Linked DNA regions of Homo sapiens: region 1 is linked to region 2. The links come from fine-mapping of genetic effects on plasma protein levels. Region 2 holds a variant in brackets. A gene starts in the other region. All regions are shown on their forward strands.

The links. PIP is the posterior inclusion probability: the model's chance that the variant is causal. Protein levels are from antibody-based Olink assays in UK Biobank. Linkage for the fine-mapping came from a reference panel and not from the study's own genotypes, which makes the PIPs less certain.
Region 1: GDF2 starts here. The variant in region 2 is fine-mapped to the plasma level of the GDF2 protein (UK Biobank, PIP above 0.99).

Annotation. Positions count from the first base shown.
Region 1 is chr10:47,319,149-47,324,536 of GRCh38, forward strand. GDF2 (growth differentiation factor 2) reads left to right here and starts at 3,306. Exons shown (of 2, transcript NM_016204.4): 1 at 3,306-3,866. The coding sequence starts at 3,521.
Region 2 is chr5:103,000,512-103,005,899 of GRCh38, forward strand. It overlaps PAM (peptidylglycine alpha-amidating monooxygenase), which reads left to right. Exons shown (of 26, transcript NM_001177306.2): 17 at 2,522-2,638; 18 at 4,643-4,715. Among named protein-coding and RNA genes, the nearest start is that of GIN1, 120 kb to the right of the region's middle. The variant C/G (reference allele first, on the strand shown) is at 2,524.

The sequences.
Region 1 (5,388 bases), not on the chromosome of region 2:
CAAGCCACGCTAAAGCCAAACCGTTGCCAACCAAGAAGGTTTCATTAGTCAGGTGCAATCCACTTTGCTTAGGCCTGTTTGGATTCTGCTTTTCTGCAACCTGTGACAAAAGGAATCCAAATGACAACATTTTAAAAATTTTAATTAAAAAATTTTTGTCAAAGAGAAGCAAGCCTGTATATATCAAACCATGTATACCTCAAGTGGCTTCGAAAGTAAACCTAAGGCAGAGACTGAAGACACTTTGGTGTAGATTTTCTTAAATTTTATGCCAGTCTTTGCTTTATTTAGGTATAGACACATAAGACTACCATAATTCAGATCGTTAGTCTTTGAATAATCATGTGGACTGACTTCCCTGGGAAGTCGGTGAAGAATTAGAAAGTACACAATTTGGAGGAAGAGGGGGGAAAGGAGAGATAAATAAGACCTTCTGTGGTTCAAGTGAGGCAGCTCCTTCCTGAGGCCCCAACAATGCAAAGCTGGTGATAGCAGAGGGAGGGGTCCTTCTGCAGGAGGGAACATCCAGGGTCTGTTTCCTCCTGGGAAAATCAGAGCAAGTTTGAGACTTGTTCCCTAAGACCCAGAGTTAGGGGGATTTTCTCAGATGGACCAGGGTCCATTTGTATGAAAAGGTAACCAGGTCCCTGAAATCACCACCTGATGAAAGTGGGAGTCCCGCTGGTGACCTAGGCCCCCCGTAAGAGCCTACAGATTTGAGAAAGGGCTGGTTGGAATCGGTGTTTAACCATAACTGGCCTCTTACCTTCACCCAGCCACTGGCCACAGAGACACGCATGCTGGAGGTGGGTAAGCCCGGCACACGTCTAAGAACACTGTTACCTTATTGCCTCATGGGGGCCACCCCACAGACCTGGGCTAGAGGACATTCCAGCAGCTAAGAACAAGCAGCCGTTTAGACATGTAGGACCAGTGCCCAACAGCAAAGCCAGTGTTGTTGAGAAGCAACAGCAGGTGGGACCCCTCTCTCCCTCCCGCTTCCCAGCATGAAGAAGCTGGACTAACACCTTCATACCCTATCTCCTTTGGACTTAATTTACCCATGGAGCACTTGGACAATTCAGAAAAGGAGAAGACTAGACTTCCTGATAATATGGATCAGGAAACCTCAAGCAATCCATTTAATACAATGAAAGAGATGTGAACATATTGATATCTTGAGTTTGTGAGGCAAATCTTTTCAGATATACACCGGCATGTTGCATTGCACAGCTCCAGGGAAAGACACCCATGTCAGAGTCTGTGTGGCCAGCACCCACAGGCAGCTGTGATGACCCTGGATACAGTCAGGTCCATAGTCCTTCATCTGAGACCTCCAAGTAAAGAACCATCTGAGAACCTAGAGTTTCTTTTAATTCCTTTTCTGGGAAAACTTGACCTGAATGGACATTTGTGTCTTTATTTGTTTCACTGCAGAAATATTCATGTGTGTCATTATAAGGTGTTGTCTCTGACCCCTTTGGGAATGTTATTGCATATACACAATACAAAATCCCCCAAATCTGAAACTGTCGGAGTCTCAACACAATCCTGGCCACAATGGTTTCAGATATAGGATTGTGGAGTTGGATGTGTCTCAAAATGCTAACCATGGGCATCACTGGATGATTAAATTGTAGGTTATTTATTTTCTCTTTAATGTTTTCCATTTCCCAAGTTTTCTATACTATAGACTACTGTTATAACAGGGGAAAAAAATGTCACATTTAAAAAATAACGTCAGGTAGCAGCCCCTTGCTCCTCCCTGAGCACATCCAGGCCACTAGGCTATCCCTCTGCTCAGCCTCTCGTGTGTGAAAAGCTCCTGGCCAGACCATGTTGCAGGCATCTGCCCTGTCCTCACTCCTCCCGGACCACACCTCACTCCGCATTTGCAGCTCCATTTCTTGGGCATGGCACCCATTTATTCATCTTTTCTCTGCCCCATGGAATTCTTGCACTGAGCTGGATCAAAGCCCAGCACACTTCCAGTCCTCTTCCCAAGCAGCATTTCTGAAGCAGCACGCTTCCCGTCTTCCCCTGGCCCATGTCATCAAAGGACAGAGATAGCAAGTTCTATTCAGGCCCAGCCATTCAGGGGCTCCTGATTTCACCCATCCCCCTCTGCAATCTCTGACCGCAGCATGCTGTGGCCCCTCCTGCACCCCCCTAAACCTGCTCAGCTCTCTGCAGCCTCTCCCGGACAGCCTCACCAGCATAGAATACCTTCCCCAGAGTAAACCACCAGGCACAGCATACCCCAGAGTGTTTCTAACCATGATCCTTCTTTGCTTTGCTCAAAGCCACACGTGATGGAAATGGACAGAGTCTAAGTGTGGACATACTGCTCTTAACGCAGTCCCTGGGGCCCTTTCCTGGGCCACAGCTTATCAGCCTCCAAAGGCCAGGGGATCATCTTCTTGGCATGTACCACTCTCAGAACAACCCACCTACTCCCCTGTCTACCAGATTGCGTGGTTCTCCCTGCTGATGAGTGTGGGCCAGGTGGCTGCCAGGTTGGTGTGAGCTAAGACCACCCCACAACAGACCAGTGACACAGCTGGGATGCAGGGATGTGGGGAGCTCCCCACAGGCTGCAGTGTGTTGTGGAGCTCCGACAGAGCAGGCTGGGGGAACCCAGGGCTTCCTCCCCCAGCTCCAGCTCAATCAGGCCTGGGCTGGAGAGGGGGCATCCAGAATGCAGCCACCAAGCCAGCCTGGGGCACAGCATCCTCTTAACCCCTATAACTATCTTCTGAATGGGAGGCTCCAAGAGCTGCAGTGACTTGTTCCAGGTGACATTTGCAGGGAATCGGTGAGGGAGTTGAGATCCCAGCCTGTGTCTAGTTTGACTCATCACCGCACTAAATTGCACGGGAGCCATATTCACTCGTGATCTCTAATGCTCAGCAGTGCATCCCACCAACAGAGCAGGGAGGCTTGCTGGCAGGTTCCGATTCTGCAAGGAGCAGGCCTCTTCTGAGCCCTGATGTGGTCCCCACACTCTCCCCATCTCCCCAGCCCCCACGGTTCACTGTGATCTTGTGCTGTCCTTTCTATATTTGGAGGACTACTTGGTCTTGTTTCCTGGATTCTTCACTCCTGTGGCCCAGGAGATGGAGCATATGTCACCCTGCCTGGAGATTCTTCTGAAGAGCCCTGGCAAGGAAATGAGAAAGTATCCTAATTAGGGGGCAATAACCCCCTGGAGAAGCACAGATTCTTTACAGTAGGCCGTGTCCTTCCCGCATGCCCTGTGTGTTTGTCAGATGTTTATAGAGCCTTCATTAACGGAAGGCTCCCTCAGATAAGACGTCGGAGCGCGGCATCGAGGACCAGATAAGCACAAGTGGAGGACAATCCAGCCCGGCAGCGGGTGAGAGTGGGTGCTGGCCAGGACGGTTCCTTCAGAGCAAACAGCAGGGAGATGCCGGCCCGCTCCTTCCCAGCTCCTCCCCGTGCCCGCTAACACAGCACGGCCGCCTGCAGTCTCCTCTCTGGGTGATTGCGCGGGCCTAAGATGTGTCCTGGGGCACTGTGGGTGGCCCTGCCCCTGCTGTCCCTGCTGGCTGGCTCCCTACAGGGGAAGCCACTGCAGAGCTGGGGACGAGGGTCTGCTGGGGGAAACGCCCACAGCCCACTGGGGGTGCCTGGAGGTGGGCTGCCTGAGCACACCTTCAACCTGAAGATGTTTCTGGAGAACGTGAAGGTGGATTTCCTGCGCAGCCTTAACCTGAGTGGGGTCCCTTCGCAGGACAAAACCAGGGTGGAGCCGCCGCAGTACATGATTGACCTGTACAACAGGTACACGTCCGATAAGTCGACTACGCCAGCGTCCAACATTGTGCGGAGCTTCAGCATGGAAGGTAGGGTCTCCGCTTGCACCATGCGCGCTGGGGTGGGACTCACAGGTCCACAGCTGCTTTCCCCAGGGTGGAGGCCACTGGCCATAGGAGGCTCTTCAAGCTTCCATTTAAATTAGTTACAATGAAATAAAATTAAAACTTATTTCTTTAGCCTCACCAGCTTCCTTTCAAATGCGTGGCTAATGGCTTCCCTATCAGGCAGTGCAGACTGAAGAACATTTCCATGGTTACTGAGAGTTCTACTCAGCACTTCTGTTGTGAAGGATTCACCTTCCCCAAGCTGTGTGCCACATTTCACACAGCAGGTGCACAGGGATGCCAGCTCTCTTTTTTCCACCCCTTCTCTTTACTCTCCTCTTCTTTGCATCACTCCCCTCTGATTCACTTCTCTTCCTTTCCCCCTTCCCTTCCTGTCCCCTTCCTACTTCAGAACAGAACAGGCAACCTATTTCACCTCCAACTAACTGGGATATTTTTAAATTTTCAAAGCACATCTATTCCTTTCTTATGAAACGGTTTTAAAAATCAGATAAAATTCTTGGACAGAGAAGTGTTGGCAGAGAACCTAATTGTTTTTAAATAGAAATATATCTGATTTAGAAGGACTAGAAGATAACAAACACGGACCTAGGACCTATGTCCTAACTCAGACAAGCTCACATGATGCAGGGGAAATAAGTTTCTGAAGAGCAAAACTGTTCAGTCAAAGCTTGCAGCCACCAAGGGTACCCACCCATGTCACCTAGGAAGTGTTAAGCCTGCACACCTAGGAAGTGTTAAACCTGTCTGCCTGCAGAGCTGGCTTTTCCTGCTGCTGCTGTCTCCCTCTGAATGTCCAGGAGCACAGAGCCTCTCCCTTCCTGGGTCTGAGACTTGCAAATGGCTAAGGGGCCTGGCTCCATACCACGCCCAGGCCAGACCTAACTGGTCTGCAGAGGCAGGACTGGCACTTCAAAACCTGCCAGCTAGGTTTCCCTATAGCACAGGGTCTCCACACATGTGGGTATATAGCAAGTGCTGAAAAAATGCAACCTCTTTTCCCTGTCTGTGAACCAGCCATTGTATAGCAGGAGCGTGCTAATGACAAAGTGTCAGCCCAGGATAAATGGGATATCGAGATAACTATGTGGCTAAAAGCCAAGCCCCATTTTTGCTTGACATGACAAAGCAATTGAAGCTAATAGATTTTGTTCCTGAAACACTAAAACCAATTATCCACTTTTGCTTTGTTTGGAAATTACAATTTCAAACGATTTATACACTGTTTAGAGGCTGAGATTTTTGATATTGTCTTAATATTGGGGTTTCACTGTCCCCACCCAGGATCTCTCCTTTAAATTCATACACTCAGGATCTTCACTCAGGATCTGACAGTGAGTTTTTCTGTTTTCTTTATGTACTCAATAGCTGTGTGCTAGTAAGTCCCAGAATACTTAACTAGCTGTATGCATTTTGGCAATTAACTGCCTTGAATCCCAGTCTCCACATCTGCAAATGTGGAATAATAATTAGATCCTCCCAG
Region 2 (5,388 bases):
TCTTTATGGCAGCACCCTATTTCTGGTACCAATTTCCTGTATTAGTTCCTTCTCACACTGCTAATAAAGACATACCCAAGATTGGGTAATTTATAAAGGAAAGAAGTTTAATTGACTTACAGTTCAGCATGGCTGGAGGAGCCTCAGGAAACTTACAATCAGGCAGATTGCTTCAGAAGGGGAAGCAAACACGTCCTTCTTCACATGATGGCAAGAAGGAGAAGTGCCAAGCAAAAGGGGGAAAAGCTCCTTATAAAACTATCAGATCTCATGAGAACTCACTATCATGAGAACAGCAGAAAGGGGGTAACCACCCCATGATTCAATTACTTTCCACCAAGTCCCTCCCATGACATGTGGGGATTATGGAAACTACAATTCAAAATAAGACTTGAATTTATGGAACTTATGTAAAGTCTCAGTACTCTACATAAATAGGAGAACAAAAAAAAATTATTAAATTATATTCTTTGGCCATTAAAAAATACACCACACAATTTGGGTGGGGACACAGCCAAACCATATCAAACCTTAAAAAGAGATAGTGAATGAAGAAACTTTAACCTATTACATATGAATGTGAAGGTTACAATATACTGAGTCTCAGATGTGCTGAACTTGTTAGTCATTATTATAGTCACCTTGGAAAAATAAAAGATTATTAATGGTTGAATCCAGTACCTATGTTTTTCAGAGGAATAGTTATGATGTTTTTAGTAAATAAATTCATATTGAAAATAAACTTTCAGATATAGGATAAATTATTTGGTGTTTCATACTAGCAAGAGTGACTTCATATTTTCCCTTTACCATTTTCCCATAATTTAATAATACTATGAGTATTCTTACATTGGTTCCTATCTAATAAAATTTCACATTTCAGTTGATAATGACCCCATAAATATCTTATGAAATCTGTTTTGTTAATGATGATACTTCCATTTCATAAATTTATTTTTTTCTAGATACCACTGTGTGGTTTTTAACTGCATATAATAGCATATATAAAGAGTATTACTGAAGTTTTAGATTGACAAAGCTGAATCAATATTTTGTGTTCAATTGAATGCATCATTAATAAGAACTACTTCAGGGACTTATTGTTGTCTTTCAGGAAAACTATACCCAAAAGACTGTAACAGTCAAGTAGCTCAGATAATTGTGTGGTGTATTTTTTAATGGCCAAAGAATATAATTTAAGAATTTTTTTTTGTTCTCCTATTTATGTAGAGTACTGAGACTCTACATAAGTTCCATAAATATGGCAGCCAACTGATGAATGGATTCATGACAGATCCAAGCAGTCTGTTACCTTCCCAAATTGCAAATATATAATAGCAAATATTTAATGTTATTCAGATTCTTCTTTTGCTTAACCAGTTGCACTACAAAATATTAATACTTTTTTCACAATCTTGCCTGATGCTATAAAGGCAATTCTGTTTTACAGAAATATTCATAAGTCATTTATTGACTTGATATGTATATTTATAAACACACACACATACACACCCACACACACACATACACACACACCCCCCTCAACTATGTACTGATCCAATCCTTTTTTGAGAAGATAACTTGGTTTCTTGTTGTTTCATACATTTACTTCTATATTACAGAAGCTTAGATTAGAAGAGCTTATCTTTGTCATTCATCCCTGTTGACATATAACTTCCCAAACAGAAAATGAAATAAGTACCATGTCTGTGATAATTGTGAATTTAAGAAATTATATTACTAACAATTTAAATGGAAATATAATTTTGAAAGTATATATATATGAATATATGTCCATAATATTTTATAATAATCTAAAAGGTACTGAGTTTAAAAGCAGAAATTGTCATATTTAAGTTTTTTAATTAATTATTGCATAGTTGTTCATTTTGTAGTTATAGAATAGCTGTTATTTGGTAAGTTTTATGCCTCTAAGCATATTTTTGTCTCGAGGATAGATTCGGTTTTGTAACTTTTAAATACTTTGAACATCCTCTTTTATATCTCTATAATATGTATATGCATGTTGTACCTAAAGTATAATAACGAACATTTTGATCACTGCTCTTCCAGCTATTATTATAATTAATGACAAAGTTAAAATAAGTCATATTTTCTTTTGCAATATGAAAGAAAATGTCTATTGAATGACTGCATACTCTTTTGAAGAGCTTTTGAAATTTTTCAGGTACATTAAGAGTTCTTGATCAATGTTTCTCAAACCCCAGTGAGCATAGGAACCACCCAAGGGTCTTGTGAAAATGCAGATTCAGGTCCAGTAGGTCTGAAACTGCATTTCCCAGCAATGCCAATGCTTCCGTTCCACTGACCACCCTGAGTAGCATGGTTCTACAGGTTAATGGGGTATATTATAATCCAAATGACTGAAATGTGGCAGACAAAGAGTGAAGTCAAATACATTTGAGCTCTTTTGATTTTGTATTTATGTGAATGGTCTGCATTTCTCAATTTCATTGGAATTTATGATTGTTTCATGTCCTATTTAATGCTTTTTGTTTAGCT[C/G]GTTTGACAGCAAGTTTGTTTACCAGCAAATAGGACTCGGACCAATTGAAGAAGACACTATTCTTGTCATAGATCCAAATAATGCTGCAGTACTCCAGTCCAGTGGAAAAAATCTGTGAGTTAAATGACTTATGTTGTTAAGACTTGTACTACATATATTGAGTATAAAGTGTATCATAGAGTCTTGAAATTCGAGTGTTTTGTATAACTGCACTTGAGAAAGCAGAAAACTAACTGGGCCATCCCATCTTTCATTTTCTACATAGGTGTTTCTAAATCTTGACTGAATATTAGAATCATCTGGGAAGCTTCAAAATATTTAGATTCACTTATCTGTTTGCCATTTGTATGTTTTCTTCTGAGAACTGTCTGTTCAGGTCCTTGCCTATTTCATAATTGCTAAATGAGTATATTTGGAATGTTCTCACCTCAAAAATGTTAGGTATTTGAGGTGATGGATATGTTCATTAGCTTGATTTAATCTCTCCACATTGTATACATATGTCATAACATCACATTGTACCCCATAAATGTATACAATTAAAATTTGTCAATTTGTCCTTTAAAAAATTAGATTTAGATTCTGTATAGAGTGGGGCTAATAATCTTAAGTTCCCAGGTGATTTTAATATGTAGTCAAGCTTGTTACATATTACATATGTAATATATATCTTACATACTTGATTAAGTGAGTTGCTGCTCAGCCAGATCTAATGATCCAAAAAAATTCTTCAGCAGAAAAATTCTTCAGGACAACCAAACTCATCAAGTAATCACCATTAAGTAAAAGAGCTTCTCTTTTTCCGTCTCAAAGTGAATACTAAACAAATGTCATTTTTAGCATTCCTTATCATGCGTATGTAATTTGGCTTTGAAAACTGCTCATTATTTAGTCTTATTTCGAGATGGCACTTGGCAGCCAAAAAAAAAAAAAAGTTGACTGATATTTATGGTCATTGAAAGAAGTGAGGGAGGCACTTGCTTACAGATCTCCTGAACCATTGTAACTTGACAGCTTCAGGAATTATACCCTTCTCCATCTGCTTAAGCACAGGGAAAGCTAGCTTCTTCGCAAGGTGGATAGCCACCGTTTTGAGTGCAGCTGCTTGGGAGATGATAATAATGATGCTTAGAATTTTTTAACAGCATTCTCAAGATTGTGTGTCAGGGGTGAAATGTTTGAACCTGTTTCATTGGTGCTCTATTTATTCACCAGAAGCACCCTCATTCCAGAAAGGAATTAAGGGGAAGGCAGAAAAACTACTGCTAAATCAACTTGGCCATCGGTGGAGTATCTGTTTGAAAGCAAATCATAATCCTCACATTCAGTTGTCAAAACAGGGATCTAGTTCAGCTAATTAGTCAAAATCAGAGTGTTACAGTTATGGCTTATGAAAAAAAATCTGTATTGTCAACACTACACTAAGATTAGAAGCTAACAGAGCTATTGGATTGTCGGATATCATTGGACCAAACCACCTCAATGTATTGTCCATGTGTCTGTTAGCTCAGTCCAGGTTCCTTACCTAGATCATTAAGATTGATTTGCCAGATTAACCTTCTCTAATGTTTATCTAGCTCACTATTTCACTTTGCTTAGATATTCACAGCCCATGTTGGCTGGAGGTTATGTGCTGTGGGTTTTACTGTCTTTAATAGGCACTCTTTAAAGCCTTTGAGTTATATGTCTAATAGTTTATATTAACACATTACATTTCCTTGCAACATGTTTTAACCGCAAACTATATCAATCCATTTATGTTTCTTAAGTCAGTTTTATACATATTTGTAAGATGTTAACACTTATGACCTCAGAACCTGTTTTTAAACTGATACTGTTTTCTCTAATATACCATACTTTATAATAAACATTTGTAATTTATATGTAGGCTTAATTTATAAATTTTAATACTATTAAATACTACCTAAGGTTTGTCACAAGGAGATCTCATTATAACAGTTTTTATTAACTATTCATTTTGTTCTTTTCTATAATAATGCAAGTATACATTTATCAATTTATAACTTTGCATTGTCTTTACAGATTAATTAGAAAAATTTCTGTCACATATGCCTTGAGAGTAAATGTGTAATTAACACAAATATTTTTATTTTGCAGGTTTTACTTGCCACATGGCTTGAGTATAGATAAAGATGGGAATTATTGGGTCACAGACGTGGCTCTCCATCAGGTAGTCTTCCTTTTGGTAATATTCAAATTAGAAGCTAACAGAGTTATGCTTTTGAAGAGCTCTGGAGTTGTATGGGTTTTTTGTTTGTTTGTTTTTTCTTCTGTCACCCAGTAAGTTATAACAAGAAAATAGAGCAGCCATGTCTTAGTTCAGCATGTTATAACAAAGTACTATAGTCTGGGTGGCTTATACACAACAGAAATTTGTTTCTCACAGGTCTGGAGTCTGGAATTCAAGAACAGGGTGCCAGCATGGTTGAGTTCTAGTGAGGGCCCTCTTCTGGGTTATAGGCTGCTAATTTCTCATAGTATCCTTGCATGGCCAGAGAGATAAGAGTGACAGTAATCTCTGTTATCTCTTCTTATGGCACTAATCCCATTCATGAGAACTCTACCCTTTTGTCCTGATTACCTCCCAAAGGCCCTGCTTCATATTACCATCATATTGGGGGTTAGGATTTCAACATGTGAATTTGGATTTGAGGCACAAACATTCAGTCCATAACAATCCACATCTGAAATATTTCTCTTAGAACTCAATGCTAGGGAAAGCTAGTATGTAAATGATGAAGTCACATTTGTCCCTTGGACCAGATATGAAGCTTCACTCAAATAACTACATGGGCCCTCCCAACCATTTTCTTAACTGTCTGTATTTGCCTTTATTTCCTCTG